Regions from separate parts of the Homo sapiens genome. Here all the other regions are linked to region 2. Evidence: fine-mapped expression QTL. A gene starts in region 2. Each other region holds a variant in brackets. All regions are shown on one strand. Distances are from middle to middle.

Region 1 (4,119 bases), 11 kb before region 2:
GGATAGTGTCCGTGCCCACCTGTGTCCTGAGGCTCCACCTCAGGCTGGCATCTGTCCCTATGTCCCTACCCACCCCATGGCCATGTCCTTTCGGGTTCATAAGTTGCCCACAAATCACAGAGTCATCATTCTGGAGATTTTTATATTCCCAGGGCCACCAGCTGCCTCCACCCAGAAAGGTCAGATGTGGGAGACTTCTAGAGTCATTCCCCAACCCTGGATGAGCTTCTGCACCCTCAGTGCTACTCAGGCTCCAGCAAGACCTGGAGCAGGTGCAGGTGAGGCCCGAGGCCAGGTGAGGTCCAGGTCAGGTGAAGCCCAGGCCAGGTGAAGTCCAGGCCAGGTGAGGTCCAGGCCAGATGAGGTCCAGGTCAGGTGAGGCCCAGGCCAGGTGAAGCCCAGGCCAGATGAGGTCCAGGTCAGGGGAAGCCAAGGCCAGGTGAGTTCCAGGACAGGTTAAACCCAGGTCAGGAGACGTTCAGGTGAGTTGAGGCCCAGGTCAGGTAAAGCTTGGGACAGGCGAGGTCCAAGTCAGGTGAGGCCAAGGTCAGGTGAAGCCCAGGTTAAGTGAGGCCCAGGCCAGTGAGGTCCAGGTCAGGGGAGGCTGAGGTGGATGTGTGAGGCGTCTGCAGTTTTCTCTGGGTGCTCACCCTGCCTGGTGTCCCTGCCCCTCCTCTCAGCACCCACTCTGTGCCTGCAAGGTGGTGGCCCGTGCACAGGTGGTGCTGGCTGCGGAGGTGCTGGGCTCTGCCTCCCTGTGCGTGGGCGTCCCTCTCGGGCTCTGCCTGGGGAGTGTGGCTGAGTTGCTTCTCTCTGGAATTCACTGACTGTGCCGTCCTCCGGGATATATGGCCCTGCGCTTGCTCCACATCAGGCCCCAGGAACTGCCAGCAGGTACCCGCCTGCCCTGCTGCACAGTGAGCCTGCAACCTGTCCGGGGATCCCAGGGAGGTGAATGCCACCACACATCAGCCCTTTATCTCTTTAAAGTCGTTTATTTGGGGATACATCATCGATGTCTCATATACTAAATATATGTCTGTATCATTGTGCAATTGCCTGTGTCATCGCTTATTTATCCGACCTGGGTTAATGTCTTTGCTATTATGAACAGTGCTGGACTGAGAATTTTCTAAACACAACTGTGTCCATTTTCCTCTTCTTGCAATTTAGAAGTTTAACTGCTGTTTTCAAGGTACTGTAATGTATTCGTTCTGTTCTTGTTAGGAGACTTGCCCACCCTGTGTATCTCAGTTCATACCCTCTTCCTTCCCCAGCAGAAGTAACCACCACTGTGTTTATGTGATCATCCTTTTCTTGGTTTTCTTTATGGTTTTCTAACTGGGAAATGTATCCCTTAAGAAGACAGTTCATTTTGCAGGGTGTAAATTTTATTTAGAAGAAATCACATTGAAAGTATTTTTTGGAGTTTACTTTGTTACTCCAATTACTCAGCATTGTCATGAACTCAACCAGAGTCGCTTATAACCCTGTACTTTTGTGCTTGTGGCTGTCTGGGTTTGCATTTCATGAACCTGCCATCGTTTATTTGCCTGTTCTCCTTCAGATGGACGTTTGCTTTGCTCTCAGTTTGGGGCTATGAGAAACACCTGTTGTGCACATCTTTGCCCATGAGGCTCTCAGGGAGGGCTCTGGGGCTGGCATTGCCTGAGGGTTCTGCTTTGTCACAGGGAGTTCCTGCCAGGGCTTTTCAGA[G/A]TGTCTGTGCCCAGCAGCAATGCCTGAAGGTGCCCACTGAACTTTGTCCTTGCATCAGGCACTTTCTGTGTGCTTGCTTCTGTGCTGCTCCACATTCTGGAGAATTTATTCAGATCTGTGCTGCAAATCCATCTCACTGATTCTCTCTTTAGCTGTGTCTACATCAGCTGTTAAGCATCCCATGATGCAGCAGTGTGGGCACAAGGCAAACTTTCGAAAGATGACAGTGTAGGATAGCGGCTGCTCCTCCTTCCCTGTGCTCTTCCCACGCTGTCCTCCTGGGCTCACTCCCAGCCATTGATCTCGAACACCAGTTTATGGAACTCTCTGCACAGGAAAGCAGAAACAGCAAAAGGCCCTGCTCAGGCTCTGCCCGCATCCCCTCTTACACACCCGCCAAAGCTCTTTCCTTGGGGCCTGTGCAAGCTTCCCCAGCTTGCTTCTCATTTTCTGTTTACTCTGCTCGCTGGCTGGTGGGTGTGATGTATGGAGGGGAGTCTGGTGCGTTTTGGGCATTGATGGACACCCCTGAGCCCTATTTCCCAGACGCTCCCCCAGCCCCTCAGCCCCAGAAGTGGAATGCGTTTGCAGTAGGGCTTTGGGAATGGGGCTGTGTCACTGTGGGTATAGCATACACCATTAGTACAATATCCTCACAGTGACACGAGCCCCCACAAAATCCTCCTGTCCCTGCGGGTGTCACTGAGCCCCATCTTGCTGGCTCTGGCTGGCTCTCCTGCTGAGACTGTGCATTCCAGGGGGTTTTTGTCTGAAACTCTGGGTGTCTTGGAGAGGACTCTGAGCCCAGTGCTGAACAAGGGGCTCCTCCTTTGTCCTGGGGGAGTTGCATGGATCCTGTCTTCGGTCAAGGGAAGCGCCTGCTGGTGAAGGAGACCTCCCCTCCTCTGTTCTGCCAGAGCCCCCTCTGATGCTGTTGCCTGGTGTTTCTTGGTTGGTTCTGGTGCTGGGTCTCAGCAGTCTCTGCCCTGGTCCAGGTGGGACTGTGGGTCTGTCCTCTTTCCATGGGGTGTTGTGGGACCACCAGTGAGTGGCTTGGGATGTCAGTGGCTGTCCTCTGGCCCTATGGTGTGGGCTCGGGCTCACTGCTCCCCTGCCTCCAGGTCTGGCAATGACTCCGTTACTACCCATCGGCCTCCAGGGAGGTTTGGTGTTAGACTCCGTTGACTGGGCGTCTTCAGGTCTCTTCCCAGGAGAGGCCTGTGAGAGGACTGGGATGTCTGGTAGCCCTGCATTCTCCTGTGATGCTGCTGCCTGGATCCCTCGTCTTTAGAGGGAGTGCCGAGCCTCCCTGCAGGTGCGGGCAGTGAGAGACACAGGCAGACGTGTGTCAAGGCGCTGGAGGCCGATTTCTTTCAGTGCCTTCTGCCTGTGGAAGGGCTGAGCTCCCTGCTTCTGTGCACAGGAGGCTGCCCTGTAACCGGGCAGTGAGGGTAAGGGCCCAGGCCTGCATGGGAAAGACTTGGGTAAGGCTTTGTCCCAGAAATACCAGAGCCAGGCCTGAGAGGGGAGTGGGGCTGGAGTGGCCAGGAGGAATGTGAGGGCATGGGCAGTGTGTGGGTGCGAGGGCACGGTCAATGCCATCCCTCAGGGGCCCTAGGAGAGGAAGAGCTCGAGCTGTGGGCAGGAGGAGCACGGGGGTGGGCACAGGCAGGAGAAACTGAGGGTCTTTGGCAGTGGAGGGGAGGGCCTGCAGGTGTAGGGTTGGCCTGGGAGAGGTGTTTAGAGGGAGGAAGACGGGTCTAGGTAGAGAACTGGGTGGGGGCTGTAGGGACAGGACCCCAGGGCTGTCTTGGTGGGTGGCAAGAGCAGCGGGGGAGAAAGGGCTGGAGGAGGGTCAGGTCTCCCCAGGGTGTGGGCTGCAGGGTCGGGTCTCCCCAGGGTGTGGACTGCAGGGAGGAGCTGCACAGGGTGCTCCCCCGAAGGAAGGAGGAGGGAGGAAGCACAGAGGCATTGGAAGTGAATGGAGAAGGAAATGGCAGTGACCTGAGTGCCAGGTGGTCCCCGTCTGGGGTTGGTCTGTGTGGGAACAGCTTCCTGGCCTGTGTGTAAGTGGACGGGGGAGGGCAACGAGGTCTGGGGCAGGAAGTCGTAGCAGCAAGGCAGGTCCCGGGCCTGGGGGTCTGGAGCTTATCTTCTTCCTGTGAGCTGTGTGTGGGCGGCCCCAGTGTGGGCGGTGCCCTAGACCTGTGGTCTGGTGGAGCCCAGGCCTCCCAGGGACAGCAGGGCAGCCAGGGCTAGAGGAGCCTGAGGGGCCAGGTCAGGGTGGCCCTGGGGCCACTGCCTCTACCTGTGACCAGCGCTGCTGGGGGGATCTGGGCATGAGACCCCTTCTCCCAGGAGGGGAGGTGCGTGAGTGAGACCCTAAGTCCATATCCCATGGGG
Region 2 (4,119 bases):
TGCCCAGGGAGGTGAGTGCCACCACATATCAGGCCTTTTCTCTTTAAAGTCATTTCTTTGGGGATACATCATCAATGTCTCATATACTGAATGTATGTCTGTATCATTGTGCAATTGCCTGTGTCATCGTTTATTTATCCAACCTGGGTTAATGTCTTTGCTATTATGAACAGTGCTGGACTGAGAATTTTCTAAACACAGCTGTGTGCATTTTCCTCTTCTTGCAATTTAGAATTTTAACTGCTGTTTTCAAGGTACTGTAATGTATTTGTTCTCTTCTTGTTAGGAGACTTGCCAACCCTGTGTGTCTCAGTTCATACCCTCTTCCTTCCCCAGTAGAAGTAACGACCACTGTGTTTATGTGATCATCCTTTTCTTGATTTTCCTTATAGTTTTCCTAGTGGAAAGTTTATCCCTTAAGAAGATAGTTCATTTTGCCGGCTGTAAATTTTATTTAGAAGAAATCACATTGAAAGTATTTTTTGGACTTTCCTTTGTTACTCCAATTACTCAGCATTGTCATGAACTCAACCACAGAGTCACCTGTAACCCTCACTGTTGTCCTTCTGGCTGTCTGGGTTTGCATTTCATGAACCTGCCATCGTTTATTTGCCTGTTTTCCTTCAGATGGCTGTTTGCTTCATTCTCAGTTTGGGGCTATGACAAACATATGTTCTGCACATCTTTGCCCATGAGGCTCTCAGGGAGGGCTCTGGAGCTGGCATTGCCTGCAGGGCTCTGCTTTGTTGCAGGGAGTTCCTGCCAAGGCTTTTCAGAGTGTCTGTGCCCAGCCTGAAGGTACACACTGTACTTTGCCCTTGCATCAGGCACTTTCCTTGTGCTTGCTTCTGTGTGGCTCCACATTCTGGAGAATTTATTCAGATCTGTGCTGCAAATCCATTTCACTGATTCTCTCTTTAGCTGTGTCTACATCAGCTGTTAAGCATCCCATGATGCAGCATTGTGGGCACAGGGCAAACTCTTGAAAGATGACAGTGTAGGATAGCGGCTGCTTCTCCTTCCCTGTGCCCTTCCCACACTGTCCTCCTGGGCTCACTCCCAGCCATCGATCTTGAACACCAGTTTATGGAACTATCTGCACAGGAAAGCAGAAACAGCAAAAGGCCCTGCTCAGGCTCTGCCCGCATCCCCTCTTGCACACCCGCCAAAGCTCTTTCCTTGGGGCCTGTGCAAGCTTCCCAGCTGCTTCTCATTTTCTGTTTACTCTGCTCACTGGCCAGTGGGGTGATGTCTGGGGGGGAGTCTGGTGCGTTTTGGGCATTGATGGCCACCCCTAGGCCCTACTTCCCAGACGCTCCCCCCAGCCCCTCAGCTCCAGAAGTGGAAGCGTTTACAGCAGGGCTTTGGGAATGGGGCTGTGTCACTGTGGGCATAGCAGCTGGTACTACTACAATATCCTCACAGTGACACGAGCCCCCACAAAATCCTCCTGTCCCCGCGGGAGTCACTGAGTCCCCTCTTGCTGTCTCTGGCTAGTTCTCCTGCTGATACTATGATTTCCAGGGGGTTTTTGTCTGAAACTCAGGGTGTGTTGGAGAGGACTCTGAGCCCAGTGCTGTACAGGGGGCTCCTCCTTTGTCCTGGGGGAGTTGCGTGGACCCTGTTTTTGGTCAAGGGAAGTACTTGCTGGTGAAGGAGACCTCCCCTCCTTTCTTTCTCAGGAGCCCCCTCTGATGCCGTTGCCTGGTGTTTCTCAGGGCTGGTGCTGGGGGCTCAGCAGTGTCTGCCCTGTTCCAGGTGGGAATGTGGGTCTGTTCTGTTTCCACGCGGTGTTCTGGGGCCGCCAGTGAGGGGCTCGGGATGTCAGCGGCTGGTCTCTGTCCCTATGGTCTGGGCTCCGGTTCACTGCTCCCCTGCCCTCCAGGTCGGTCACTGACTCAGTTACTATCCAGCGGGCTCCGTGGCTGTTCAGTGGTGGCTGCAGGTCTCTTCCCAGGAGAGGCCTGCGAGAGGGCTGGGCTGTCTGGGAGCCCTGCATTCTCCCATGATGTTGCTGCCTGGATCCCTCGTCTTTACAGGGAGTGCCGAGCCTCCCTGCAGGTGCGGGCAGTGAGAGACACAGGCGGACGTGCATCAGGGTGCTGGAGGCCGATTTCTTTCAGTGCCTTCTGCCTGTGGAAGGGCTGAGCTCCCTGCTTCTGTGCACAGGAGGCTGCCGTGTAACCGGGCAGTGAGGGCAAGGGCCTGCATGGGGAAGACTTGGGTGAGCCTTTGTCCTGGAAATACCAGGGCTGGGTCCAAGAGGGGAGCAGGGTCAGAGTGTCCAGGAGGAAGGTGAGGGCATGGGCAGTGTGGGGGTGGGAGTGCACGGTCAGTGCCATGGCTCAGGGGCCCCAGGAGAGGAAGAGCTCGAGTTGTGGGCAGGAGGAGGCAGGGGGTAGGCACAGAGGGTAGAAACTGAGGCTCTGGCAGCAGAAAAGGGGAGGGCCTGCATGTGCAGGGTTGGCCTGGGAGGGGTGTCTGGAGGGAGAGACAGGGGTCTGGGTGGAGACCAGGGTGTAGGCTGCAGGGATGGGACCCCAGGGTTGTCTGGATGGGCAGGAAGAGCAGCGGGGGAGAAAGGGCTGGAGGCAGGGTTGGGCCTCCCCAGGGTGTGGGGTGCAGGGAGGGGCTGCACAGGCTGTTCCCCTGAAGGAGGGAGGAGGGAGGGAGCACAGAGGTGCTGGGAGCAAATGGAGAGGGAAGTGGCAGCGGCCCGAGTGCCAGGCGGTCCCGGTTTGGGGTTGATCTTTGTGGAACAGCTCCCTGGCCCGTGTGTAAGTGGTCGGGGGAGGCACGGAGGTCTGGAGCTACAAGCGGTGGCAGGAAGGCAGGTCCCAGTCTTGGGGGTCTGGAGCTTATCTTCTTCCTGTGAACTGAGTGTGGGCAGCACCTATGGGCGGTGCCCTGGACCTGTGGTCTGGTGGAGTCCAGGCCTCCCAGGGACAGCAGGGCAGCCAGGGCTAGAGGAGCCTGAGGGTCCAGGTCAGGGTGGCCCTGGGGCCACTGCCTCCACCTTTGACCAGCTCTGCTGTGGGGATCTGGGCATGAGACCCCTTCACCCAGGAGGGGAGCCGCGTGAGTGAGACCCTAAGTCCATACCCCATGGGGGGCTCTGACCCTCCTGCATAGGGCCTGGACAGGGGTGGGTGGGGTGTGCGGGGGGCGGTGGGGAGCCCAGACTCTCCCAGACACAGCCTGCTCTGCTCCAGAATGTGGGCTTGGGCACTGCAGGCTGGCTGGGTCTGGGCTGCCTGGTGTGCCTGTGGTGGCTGCATTCCCACAGCCGGGACTGAGGCCTAGTGAGGACCAGGGAGGAGCCTGAAGGGAGCTCCATGGAGGACCTGCCTCGGATGACACCCCTATCTTAAGAAGGTCATGGTGGGTTCCAGCTGGGAGGAAGGGAAGTGGGCCACCTCCTGGGGGTCTTCCACCCCCACCACCTCAGCCTGGGGCCTCTGTGATTCCTCTCTGCACAGACCCCAAAGTCTGTGCTGCCGCAGGGCAGGAAGGAAGGGCCTGTGGCCTGGTCGAGGTTGGGGCCACAGTGGTGTTCCCTAAGCCCGAGTCTGGTCTCATGGCCCGCCCCGCAGCAGGTCCTGAGTGAGGGACAGAGACCGGGGCGGGGTCTTTGGTCCTGGTGGACTCTGGGGTGGATTCCAGTGGGGAGTCATCAGGGTCGGTGTCCCCCAGGGTACTGGGGTGTCTCTGCTCCTGGAGTCGGCTCTGGATGTGGGGTTTATGCCTGTGCTGCCTGGGGTTGATGCTGGGAGGTGCCAGTGACCCCCGTTTCCCTGAGGGACTCTTGTCGGTGGTAGGGTCAGTTCTGGCCAGGAGCACTGGGACCATAGCAGTAGGATGGGGTCCAGCCCCTTCCATGACCCCCTGGAGCCCTGGTCCCCGTCCTCACCATTCAGTGGGGTTCAGTGGGGACTCCACTGTGCTCTGGCTGCTGGGGGTCGTGTGAGCTGAGCAGGACCTAGGTTCGGGGCGGCTGCTCCCCTCTCTGGCGCGGCCTCCAGCAGGGGCCAGGAGAGAGTTTTGGACACAGTTTTTCTCACGGTGGTCGTTCCAGTTGTACCCACCGTGACTCGGGGCTGTTCAGAATCTGCCCCGGCG
Region 3 (4,119 bases), 71 kb after region 2:
GGGTGCCTGTAATCCCAACTACTCTGGAGGCCGAGGCAGGAGAATTGCTTGAACCTGGGAGGTGGAGGTTGTAGTGAGCTGAGATTGTGCCGTTACACTCCAGCCTGGGTGGCAGAGTGAGACTCTGTCACAAACAAACCAAAAAAAAAAAAAAAAATGAAAAAACTGAAAAAACAAAGTTCCCATATAATTAGAGTATATACTTCTATTGTTACTTTTTTTCAATTTATTAATGACATACTGTAAACAACATTAAAAATAGTAATCCCTTTCATTTCTCAGCCCCAGCACAGCTGCCTCCTCCCTGGGGTTTCTGACACCCTCAGGATGTGGGTTTTCACACTGTGTCTCTCGCACAGTAATACACGGCCGTGTCGTCAGATCTCAGCCTGCTCAGCTCCATGTAGGCTGTGCTGATGGACGTGTCCCTGGTCATGGTGACCCAGCCCTGAAACTTCTGTGCATAGTTTGTGCCACCACTGTTAGGGTTGATCCATCCCATCCACTCAAGCCCTTGTCCAGGGGCCTGTCGCACCCAGTGCATATAGTAGCCGGTGAAGGTGTATCCAGAAGCCTTGCAGGAGACCTTCACTGAGGCCCCAGGCTTCTTCACCTCAGCCCCAGACTGCACCAGCTGCACCTGGGAGTGGGCTCCTGTGGAGAGAACACAGAAGTGGATGAGATCTCCCTGGACTGGACTCAATCTCTTTCTCATCACTGGGACTAGGGAGCCTCTTACCTGTGGCTGCTGCCACCAAGAAGAGGATCCTCCAGGTCCAGTCCATGGTGAGGAACGGAGCTCTCAGGGGATTCTCTAGAGGACAGATGTGGTTGCTGGGTGATGCTCTCAGGGCACAGGACAGATCTGTATTTACTTCAGTAAATCTCAGGTTATTTGCATATTCATGAGGGATACTATTTCATAGCTCTAGACTTGATCCAAGATGAGAAAGAGAACACACATAATTTATGGGCCATGCAACAGTGGGACGCTGAAGTCCCTGTCCCAATCCTTGTTTAATGATGTGTGTCCCCTTGTATGCCCAGAACTCTGCTAAAATAGATTGTCTGCTGAAAACAAGTTCCCGCAGAACATGGTCCTCCAAGTGAACCCATACTTAAATGGCACTTTGACACCTTCATACTTTTCTGGGCTTTGCTTTCTGCATGTCTTACTACTGTCTCTGTTAAGATTGGCAAGCACTGAATTAATAAAACCATCCCTTTTCTCCATCTCCTACCTATTAAGATATCTGAAAATCCTAGAAATTTCTCCTTTTACATGTGATTCTCATTGACTTGTTAGGTTAGATAAATCCTACAAATAGAACTGTATACTGAAAGACACAAAGACACATCAATAGTCTTTACTAAAGTCTTGTTTAACTTATTAAAGCATGTTTGTCCGAGAAAAGGAAGACATCAGACCCTGGGAGGAACCCCTCCCCAGCCTCCCTTGCACCTGCTCCAGGGCTGCAGCCTGTGCTGGGCGAGGCCCTAGCGCTCCCTGCCACCCAGACCTTGCACTGCAGGGAGCTTCCCATTGGGTCTCACAGAGCATTTTTCTCTCAGCCTCTGTAGCTCACTAGGAAGTGACTGTGACCTGGCTCAGAATGCTCCTTCAGTGACAACATGAGCTGATGACACCACCTCTTGAAATAGTGAATGGGCCTTTGGAAACCCAATGTCCTCTTCAGGGTGGCTCCAAGAGAAGAATCGCTAAAATCACCAGGGAGTCCACTTCCTGGAGGTCTAGATGCACTGGATCACTGGAAACAAAGGGAGGCTAAAACTCTGGGGGGGTTGGAGGTGGCTCTTTTCTCATTTC[G/T]GCTCTTGCAGATGAATACTGCATCTGAGAATACCTGAAGCTGCAGATGGATGTGGATTAAAGCTCACTCCACGTCCGCTGTTCCAATAACTCCTACTCAAACACACAGAAACACAAACACAAACATTCTCACACACACTGTGGCTGATTTTCACAGTTATGGACCCCTAATTTTTCCTTCTTCGTAGTATCTTACTCACGGGAAGTGCCGCCGACCCTGACCCTAGGCCTCAGTATGTGACTTTCTTTCTCAAACAGATCTAAAGCAATCACACTGCCCTCTTTAATCCATATTAATGATGCTGTTGAGGAGGTAATGTGTGGGGCAGGGGAGCATGGTATGTTCTTACAGTTGACTCTCCCTGGTTTGGTTGCCCTCTTCTCCTGAGCAGTGACCTTCACAAGGAATCTCCAGTGATACAGCTGATTTTCTCTCTTTCCTCCCTTCTGCAGATGCTGCACCCAGGGCTACCGCCTTGAATCTGACTCCTCTTGGCTAATTTTATCATTTGCGTGATAGAGGAAGGCTGAGGAGGAGGGGTCTGTAATTTGGAAGTATTTCCTTCCCCCACATAAACTAAGATTTTGGAGAATACCTTCCCTTGGATGAGCTTTCTAGAAAAGTCTTTTTGTGCATCTTTTCTCCGTGATTACTCCTCCCCAGTTCATGGCTATAGGGAATCTATTTTAATTGCTTCCACGAGAACCTGAAGGCCCTGGAGGGCAAGTCCACACAAGTGTGGGGTGTACAGCCTCTAGGAGTGCTCACCCTCCCCCTAGTCCACATTTGTCCTCCAGACATTCAGCATAATCACCAGGTAAATGTTCTCACCAATGTGTCTCCAGGAGCTTCCCTTCCAAGTCAGCAAGTCTCTGCTGTGACTGTGGATGTGCCTGTCTCTACAGCTTTTGGAGGGAGTAGTTTTTTCAGCAATTTCAGCTCTTAGATGGATTAAAAAATACTTGATATTTAGATGGTTTGGAGATATATATATATAAAAATATATATGTATAATATATATAAATATACATATTATATAATATATAAATATACATATTATATATTATATATACATATTATATATAATATATAAATATGTATGTATAATATATAAAAATATACATATATATTATATAAAATATATATATAATATATAATATATATTTATTATATATATATATATATATATATATAAATTTTTTTTTTTTTTTAGATGGAGGCTCACTCTGTCGCCCAGGCTGGAGTGAAGTGGTGCGATCTCAGCTCACTTCAATCTCCACCTCCTGGGTTCAAGCAATTCTCCTGCCTCAGCCTTTCAAGTAGCTGGGATTACAGGCTAGTGCCACCACGCCTGGCTAATTTTTGTATATATTTTTTAGTAGAGACGGGGTTTCACCATGTTCACCAGGCTGGTCTCAAATTCCTGACCTCAAGTGATTCCTCTGCCTTGGCTTCCCAAAGTGCTGGGATTACAGGCCTGAGCCTATGTGCTCCTCTGGTTCAGATGTTTTTTGATGTAGAAATGGAGCTAATGACTTTTAAGATCATCACATATGTCAGCAAAACCCTGAAGTCCCCTAAGAGGTCATGTGTGTTCTGGTACTGGAAGCAGAACCCTAATCTCCCTACACAAAAGTGACATCTGGACAGACACAACTGAACATGTGGGGACAAAGGGAATGGCACAGCAGGACACTTATGAGGAAGTTTCAACAGTTTCCTTTTTATTCAGAGGAAGCTGCAGCAGGTGAGAGCTGGTTATACCTCAGGCGATGTCATTTTCTGGAAGGCTGTTCTTGCTCTTGTGCTGGATCAAGTGGATGCACCTGGGCCCTCACACCTGGAACAGGAACTCTCATTCCTTAACACAAGGTGCTCGGTGAGACAGTTGCTTCCAGCTGAAGTGCAGAGAAAGGGGAGAGAAGGAGTTGTCTCTGGTGTCCCAGGATGTGTGTCAACTCTAGGATAAGGTCACCTTGGAGGGGCAGTGGTCTACCTTAGGGGATTACATCAGTTCTGCCTTCAATAACCTGTGGCTGTGGTCAGGAGTGTGACTCATCCCCTTCTGCTCCTCCTACCTGCCTTTCATTAAATGTGCAATGAATGAGTGATCCCTCACCAGAGAGTGTCATGGTCTAAACATCATGATCTCACACAATAACATCCCCACACCCAATCTCAAATACATTATAGACCCCACTCAATCAGCAATTGGCAAATAATTTGCTCTTGTAGATTTGGTGAATACATTTGCTCGGCGTTCATTTCAACAGCCTCTCAGCCACATTTA
Region 4 (4,119 bases), 7.9 kb after region 2:
TTTCAACTATTTTATAATTATAAATAATGTTCTGAAGAATGTCTGTTCACAAAGTGTTTTCCTTATGTGTGCTAGCCATTTGTTTTCTTTTAGAAATTGTGTTATATCCTTTTTGCCGATTTCTTAAGGGATTTGTTCTTTTTCTTATTAGCTTATGTATGTTGTTTGCATAATAATGGTACAAGACCTTTACATATTAGATTAATATTATTTGAGTTTATTATTTACTCTTGTTTTGATGATTTTTAAATGTAAAGAATCTGTAAAGGTGTTACCTAGCTTCATGATTTGGGTTTGCAGTGAAGCCTGCCCAACTTTAGGCAGCTGTCTGGGCCTGTGTTTCCAGAGCTTGAAGGAGTCTCTGCTTCCCTCTGGAGGGCTGGTGTGATATCAGTGTTCTCTGTCCAGGCCTGGGTGCCCTCCTGGGTCTGGGCTTGGGCTGGGCTCTTAGATGTCTCAGAGAAATTGAGACTCTATTAATCATCTGAGTCTTTCCATTTCTGGTGAGATGATCATGGGTCATCATTGGCCTGAGTGGTGGGATGAGCTATAAATAGTTCTAAATTCCTGGTGTAAGTCCTTGTTCAACGAGATGGACAGAATTTGGCCTTCTAGGATGTCATTTATAACATTTGGCTCTTTGCCAAAATGCAAGTTAGCCCATGTTTTACTCTGGGGACTGTGAATTGTGATCCCTTTAATAGACTTTCCCATGTTCCTCCAAATCCTGGAGCAGTTCTTATGGGAACTGATTAGTTTTGTGAAAGTCTAAACTTCACCCATAAAGCCATCTTGGCCTGAAGTCATCTGTGAGGGCAATTATTTAATAATCTTAATGCTTTCTTGAGGATTACTGTTCCAATTATGATTTCCATTTCTCCTTGAGTCAGCTTTAAGTTTTATTGCTAGAAAAGAAAAATGCCAACTTGCCGTCATCTCTGCTGTCACTATTTTGTGTTCAACAATTGCCTTCTCTATCTGCTGTATCTTTTTCAGCACAGAAGCTGTAATGTTATTAAACAAAGCAATGTATCCAGATCACTCAGAATCTATGCCTGTCACGGGGAGCAGGAGAAGAGGGTGAATGAAGAGCCACAGCATGGCAGGGGAGCCACTGCAAGGATGCTGAAACTCGTGTGAACAGAGTTGCTGTAGGCAGGCTGCTATGGAACCTTTTGGGGAAGCACTGCCTCTTAGGGATGGCAGTGAAAATGGGAGAAGAGGGTGGCATTGCCTCCAGATGGAAGATGTAGTGCTTTGCCTTGCTCCTTGGTGCTTGGAGAGGGAAAGGGATGCTGCTGTAAAGTTCCTGGCTGGACTTTGGCTTGATAAAGCACGGGCACCTTTGGGAGTATGAGGGTGGGTGGGTGTGCACATCTTCCATGAGGAGCTGTTAGTATTGGGGCAGACGTTTCAAGTATGGCAGACAAAGGATGTTCTGCGTGGGGAAATGTGGTGACACCCATTTCACAAGGACAGCTCACATAGATTGAGTGCTCAGGAAGGACCAGCACCATACCCAGTGCCTGATGTGTATCATCTCAATTAGTCCTTGCCTCAGATGCAAAAGGAAACCATCGCCATCATCATCACCACCATCATCATCTTCCTCCTGTGCAGATGGAAAGGCTGAGGCATAGAGAGGTGACGGAGTCTGCCCAGGACTGCAAGCCTGCTGGTGGCAGAGCCAGGTTCCAATGGAATGAAGGCTGTCATCCTCAGATGGCAGGGTAGGCAGGTGGCTAGAGCTCACTTGGGAGAAGGGGAAAGGACACTGACTTTGGCTAGGGATGGAGCAGAGCTTGGGCTGGCTTTCCATGCACGGGCAGGGGGCGTGGCTCATGGCTACGCTCCAGCCCCGGGTGTGGACATTGAATCTTCCAGGTCTACCCTAGGCTATGGGTCTGGACAGCACTGTGATGGAAAGAAGACACTCTATGTCCTGCATTCTGTGACCAATGATGTGACTGTGGGAATGGCGCTGGCATCTGGCTGCCACTCTGGGACGGGTGGCCAGCTGCCATCAGGCCCCAC[C/G]CAGGATGGGACCACCATGCGACTTCTTCCCTCGCTCCTCCTGGTCATGTCCAGAGCCCCAGGAGGACCAGCAAAGCCTCTCGAGCCGATGGCAGCTCACGTTCTACCTTGTCAGCTACTCCTCTCCTGGGCAACATTGGCTGCTTGCTGTGGCTCTCCCCGGGGTATGTGACTGCCTCTGTGCTGGGCACCTGGCCTGGGCTTTCCTTCTGGGCCTGGGCAGCTGGGCTCAGCTTGGACCCAGGCAGCAGCCACAGAGGGGCCCATGGAGGTGACAGAGTTGCTTCTATGATGGTGAACGGGCAGCTGTGACACGGAGGAGGCGACCACTCCTCAGTTTCCAAGTGCTGCGGTCAGGGCCGGGGCCAGCAAAGTCCCTCCCATATTCAAAGAGTGGGTTTGGGTTTGTCCCAGGAGGACATAGTCAGGAGCCCATGCTGGCACATGCCTCCTCCAAAGTTCAGCCTGGATCCCCAGCCTCTGCCAACGGCCCCGCTCCTTAGCTAACCCAGCTTGCTCCTGGGTTCCACGGCGGAGTCAGATGTTTCTGGGCAGTTTCACCTTTGTGCCTTAAATGCATGTTGAGGACTTTAAGGAATTGTGGAGAAATAGGGCTGTGGCAAAGGCAAGTGACAACTGGGAACAATGATCCTGCAGAGGCTGCTGAGGCCTGGGCCCCAGGGGCGTGGGTTCATCCTTCTGCCTGGGCTTTGGTGGGAGGGGCAGACTCTGTGGTCTGAGACACAAAAAAACCCAAAACATACGTGTGTACAGACACACAGCAGAGCCACACACACACTTGTGCCCATGCACACACTCACAGGAGGCCCGTGGACTCCGCACAGGGAAGAAACTCCTCCGGTCGACAGTGGACGGCGCTGCAGCAGGGACTCACCCCCAAGCCCTGCCTGCCTCCCATTGCCCACCTGGCCCTGGCTTGATGGGCTTATCTCATGCTGTGGCCGGGGACCTCTTGCTTCCTGCAACCCCTTGCTGGACTGGGGCCTGGGCCTCTCCTGGGCTGTGCCTAGGGTTTGTAACCCAGGGCCTGTGCCGGCGTGCACAGAGCATCTCTCCCTGGGAGGCTCAGGGCTGCCTCCTCGAGCTCTGTGGGCCTGCACTGGCCGGTGAGCTTGTGGTGTGGGTTTTCAGGCTGTATCCTTCTACCTCCTGAGCCCAGGGGTCCCAGGCGCCCTGCAGCTGTCTCCTCGGCCATCCTGTGGGGCCCCGAGGCCTTGCCCTCACTTCAGTGCCTGGGTGCTCAGGCTTTGCCCAGGTGCCAGGAGAAGGTGTGAGCATGAGCCTATTGGACACACCTGGCGACGTATACCAGGTGTCCCACCCCTGCCACCATGGGGCCTCCCGATACGGCAACCACCACGGACCTGTGGGGACCAATGAGGAAAGAGAGAGGCAGGTCTGGGCCAGGCTCACAGGGACTCCGGCATAGCAGACCCTGCCCCAGCAGGCCCCCTTGTCCTTCCTGGGTCCTGGTCCTTCATGAGGAACTAGCCCATCCCTGGTGGGGCTCCCACCCCGCTTCTCAGTGGGCTCTATGCTTGCCTCGTCGGAGTCACCCCTCAGGCAGTCCTGGGATCCTCTCCTTTAGACCCACTGTGCCTTCCCGGCCTCCCGGGCTTCTGCTGGGGGCAGAAGAAATGCCTCCCCAGGTCTGTCTCTGGAGGCTCTGAGGGAGATGGGCTTGGGGGCTGTAGGAGGAGGCAGGGATTCCAGGGTGTCAGGAAGGCAGGGGTGCCAGGTCCCACCTAGTGAAGTAATAAACCGTGGGTGGTGATAGTGACCCAGTGCCCTCACTGCCCAGCCCCGCCTGTCCTCAGCCAGCACTGCAGGGATCCCAGGCCCAGACTCTGGAGGCCTTCACTGATCCCAGCCACCCCAGAAAAGCTGCAGCCTGCAGGCACCAGCCGGGCCATATGCCCAGTGCCAGCTAGGGCCCACCGCCCATCCTGCACACGGGGCCGCTGGGCAGGTGCCCCTCACACCCCCAGGATGTCAGTGCTCACCTCGAGCAAAGCGCCCCAGCTCGGCCTTGGGAGGTGGTCGTGTCCAGGGGGATGATGGAGA
Region 5 (4,119 bases), 53 kb after region 2:
CTCTAAATAGTGTTTTCCTGGCTTCAATACAAACTCTATTGGTCATGTTCTTTGTTAAAATACGTATCATTCTAAAAGTTCACATGGCATTAGATTTTTTGCTCAAACTACCTATAATATTTCTCCAACAGAGTGCACATTTGCCTTCCTTTCACACATACCTCCGCCCCCTGCCCTGAGCAGAGTCCCAGTGGTTCCCATCTGTTTAGGGGGTGGGGCAGGGGACACAGGCCCTGACGCGAGGTGGGGCCGTGCCAAGCGTGGTGGTCTTGCACGGGCACTGAGTGGGTGGGCCCTGGAGAGAGGAGAGGTCATTCCCCCTGGGGAACGCCCCAGGCCACAGGGGAGAGGTCAGCTGGAGCGTGAGGTGGGGGGCGGAGATGCATAAAGGGTGGGATGGGGCCTGCTGCTCTATCAGCAAAACCCCTCACACCCGAAGGACACATAGAGGGAGGGCACTGTATTCACTGACCTCACACTTAACTGTCCATTAGCGTTCACCCACAAAATAATAGAACACACTGACAGAGGCACAGGAATGGATTGCTCGCATCTTTATGACAGCTGAATGGAGGAAATTTCTAACAGGTTCAGAGAAAGGATATCAAGCTGTGTTTGGAGAAAGGGGTGGGAATTCTAAACAATATCTATGGAAGCAGGACATCTAGAACCACGGATGTATTCAGAAAAATGCTAGATCTCAGTACTACCCTAGAATACCAACAGTTTTCTGTGGATGGTATGGGAAGGGTGATTTCTTCCGTCGGTGGGCTTTGCCTTTGAAATTCTCTCTGACATATCTACACTGCATTTTAAAAGTCAATATTAGTGTGAATTTTAAGTTAAAATAAAATGTTATCTCATTCAGTTATTTATACATTTAACTTCCATTTTCCTTTACAATAACTCAGTGATACACCTAGCCCTGTTTTCCACCCGGACCAGCCTGTGCTGCTACAAGCCTGGTTTCTCTTCCTCATCACGACTTACTCAGCTTCCCTTCCTGTTTCAGTTCAAGGAAATGTGGGGGCAGGAAGAAAGGGGGCAGCTGCCACTCACAGAGCTCACACTAAATGACAGACAGCTTGCCCCTCACGTCTACCTATTTTTCTAGTTGAATTTCATTGCATGCAGCAATCGACCTCAGGGATTCATTTTCCCACATACGGGAAGCTCGGCCCCAGGTAGGGGGATTTGCTTGGTGGGGGATTTGAACCCAAGTCCCTCTCACTGAAAAGCCCACAGCACCCCCGTGAGGAACAGACAGGGAACAGGGAGTAGCCCTGGATCACCCTAAACTGACTTCGGGTTTAGAGAAGGACAGATTACCTGGGGAATGAGGAAGCTCATTGCTCTGGAGCTCTCTTCTGGAGAAATGTCATGAATGTTCCCTGTAAGGAGCTGGTGGCAACTTCCGTTAATTCTGGGACCAGAGACCTCAGGTCAAGAGCCAGATGCTCATTCATGTCTCTCCAGGCAAGAGGTTCTGGCCAAGTTTGGGCTCCCAGAGGAGTCTAAGAAAATGTGGAAGGCACCAATGTGTTTTTGAAGATTTATTTCAGAGTGAGCATCAGCGACCTACAAGAACCTGGGACAGAAGCCAATGCCTCCCGTTTCCCTGTGATGTGAAACAGGACCCTGTGCTTCCTGTGGACTTCAAGAAATGTGGACTTGAGCTTTGCCATCCCTTCCCCTGATCCTGTTTCATAGATTTTGCTGTTATATTCTCTGTATCTTTACAGGGATCGGGAGGCTGAATTAGTGTTATTCAGGGTTAGTAACTGTCCCTTCCTTAACGGTGGTGGTCCTGATAGTTCGCACATTTTTGGCTGTCCCAAAGAGCAGTGCAATTATGAAGGCGTAAATACGACCAAAGACCACTCTCAGATACATCACTGATTGCTGGCTTTGTTTGA[C/T]GGAACGTGTTCTTTTTGGAGGTGGCCCGCTGTTGACACTCCCACCAGCACCTCTTCTTAGGCACAGTGGAGGATCCCAGCCTATATGGCAATGGCAGTTCCTTCTGTTGTTGCAGACTCCTCTATGACCGCACTTCTGAGGGTGGCAGTTGTAGCCCAGTGAAGTGATAGTCACATTGCACTGGGTGTTATTACAGAAGTTTCCATGAACACAAGGAGTGCCATCTATCACACGCCCAACATCAGTCGTGTCTGTTGCATGGTGTTCATCCAGTCCAAAACACTGAAACCCTCCTCTCACTGAGTGATGGAATGAAACACGTTCCTGCAGCCGGGGAAGATGGGTCACATTGGTACACTGCAGTCTTCCACAAAACTTATCTATTCCTGCACAAGCCTGGTAGCTGAGATATGTTTGTTGTCTAATACAATGTCCAAATCGGTAGCTTTCAAGATTTATGTCATAGCAGACCTCGGGAGCATCCTCAGCACTGACACCAAAGATCGCCTTGCAGAGCACATTGCGATCAGTGCAGTTCCCACGATAGCAGTAGCCTTCTTCAGTGCACGGGGTTCCATCTTGCGTATAAACGTTTGCGGGACATGTCACGGTGGTCCCGTGACAGTACTCTGGAAGGTCACATATATTTTGGATAGGTCTGCAGAGAGTCCCTGGTGGGGAGAAGCTGCAGTTTGTACAGCACTCTCCTATATGGCAGATGCTCCCCGGTGTTAAGTGACAGTCACTTTGGCAGCAATAACTGGCATAACACTGCTTGAAGGAGCCACAGTCACATTCCTCCCTCCCCTCCACTATGAGGTTTCCACAGCGAACCGTTGTCATGGTTTCGTTATACACAGGAGCAAGTGTTTCAAAAACACACTGGCCTGAATGTATAAAACAATTTTGTGCATGTCCATAAGAACAGTTACTGAACGCATCTGTCATCCCAGGAAATCGCTGCATAATGCAGGAGGCCCTTCTCTGACATGTGCAGTAGTTATCATCATACTCCAGACCAATACTTCTCATCTGTGTCTGGGTTATTATGACGGCTACCAATAAATAATGTCTGCCTGGAGTACCAATGTGTAACAGGGCTATACGGGAACAGAAGTTATACCTTTCAGGTTCATAGTTAGATTCATGTGGCACGTATTTAATAAGTAGTGTGGATGAATGAACATGAAAAGTATCAAAAAAAGTTGTTTTAAAATAGGTAAACATTGCACTCTGAATTCGATATTCATTCACAGGGGCTGGGTCACGATTATTATATATGGTCAAAAGATAAATATAGTACCGCAGATCAATATTTTGAGCAATGCTGTCAATGAGACTGAACATCTGGACCACCTCTTTGGAACAAGTTGTAATATTGCCATATATGCGATAATATGAATTGGAACATTGAACGTGGCCTTTTATATTGCCTCTATGAGAACTATACAGCGAATTAGATATCCTGGGATTCATGCTGTCATTTGCTTCAGAGAACAGGGGGTCTGTCTCATTGTCATCATCTCTAAATGTGGGCCCTGTTGCGTTGGGCTCGGCCACTATCTGAAAAACAACATGTTCAAACCTGCGGGAATCCTGGAGGGGTTTGATTTCGTACGCAAGGTCGTCCAGCCTCATGATGCCTCTGAGGTCCCCATAGCACGTGTCGACGGTGACCATGGACAGAGGCACCTCCTCCAGGTAGCCGAGGTACTAGCAGTCTGGAGGGATGTAGGGGTCACCCATCTGCAAGACTCCTTGGTCATCCTGAGTTGTCACCAGCAGATGTCTAGGCCAAAGAAGGTGTTTCCTCCGCATGTGAATGACGTGTCTTTGACCCCAAAACACAGGCTGTAGGACAGCCAGCCGGGAAACTGAAGGCCTTTGCTATGGTGTGTCTCCTTCCTGGGAATCACCACCTCGGAGGAGGCGTAGTGCCACAAGGGACGGCCTTGAGAACACCGGACCGGAGCCAGGAGCGCCCAGAGCCCCAGCAGCAAGAGGGGGGTCCTAAGGGTGACCCGCGCCTCTGCCCGCCTCATGTCCCAGCCCAGCGATAGTCATCCAAAGACAATGGGAAAGGAAAGGACTGTCCTGGGCGAAGCCAGGCCCCAACCAGCTGCGGTGGCTGCGTCCCTCCCAGGGAGACCCTGACAGAGAACAAAGGGCCTCCCCAGGCTCCCGCACCACACCCCGGGGGGC

Evidence for each region.
Region 1: its variant is fine-mapped to the expression of FAM30A in whole blood (INTERVAL, PIP above 0.99).
Region 3: its variant is fine-mapped to the expression of FAM30A in whole blood (TOPMed, PIP above 0.99).
Region 4: its variant is fine-mapped to the expression of FAM30A in whole blood (TOPMed, PIP above 0.99). The same link has a PIP of 0.9 or more in blood mononuclear cells.
Region 5: its variant is fine-mapped to the expression of FAM30A in whole blood (TOPMed, PIP 0.95).

What each region holds. Positions count from the first base shown.
Region 1 is chr14:105,904,872-105,908,990 of GRCh38, forward strand. It overlaps IGH and IGHD2-8. Among named protein-coding and RNA genes, the nearest start is that of FAM30A, 11 kb to the right of the region's middle. The variant G/A (reference allele first, on the strand shown) is at 1,717.
Region 2 is chr14:105,915,437-105,919,555 of GRCh38, forward strand. It overlaps FAM30A (family with sequence similarity 30 member A), which reads left to right and starts at 2,543. Exons shown (of 6, transcript NR_026800.2): 1 at 2,543-3,381. It also overlaps IGH, IGHD2-2 and IGHD1-1.
Region 3 is chr14:105,986,235-105,990,353 of GRCh38, forward strand. It overlaps IGH and IGHV1-2. Among named protein-coding and RNA genes, the nearest start is that of FAM30A, 70 kb to the left of the region's middle. The variant G/T (reference allele first, on the strand shown) is at 1,829.
Region 4 is chr14:105,923,340-105,927,458 of GRCh38, forward strand. It overlaps FAM30A (family with sequence similarity 30 member A), which reads left to right. Exons shown (of 6, transcript NR_026800.2): 6 at 997-4,119. It also overlaps IGH. Among named protein-coding and RNA genes, the nearest start is that of FAM30A, 7.4 kb to the left of the region's middle. The variant C/G (reference allele first, on the strand shown) is at 2,035.
Region 5 is chr14:105,968,191-105,972,309 of GRCh38, forward strand. It overlaps IGH and the pseudogene ADAM6. Among named protein-coding and RNA genes, the nearest start is that of FAM30A, 52 kb to the left of the region's middle. The variant C/T (reference allele first, on the strand shown) is at 1,917.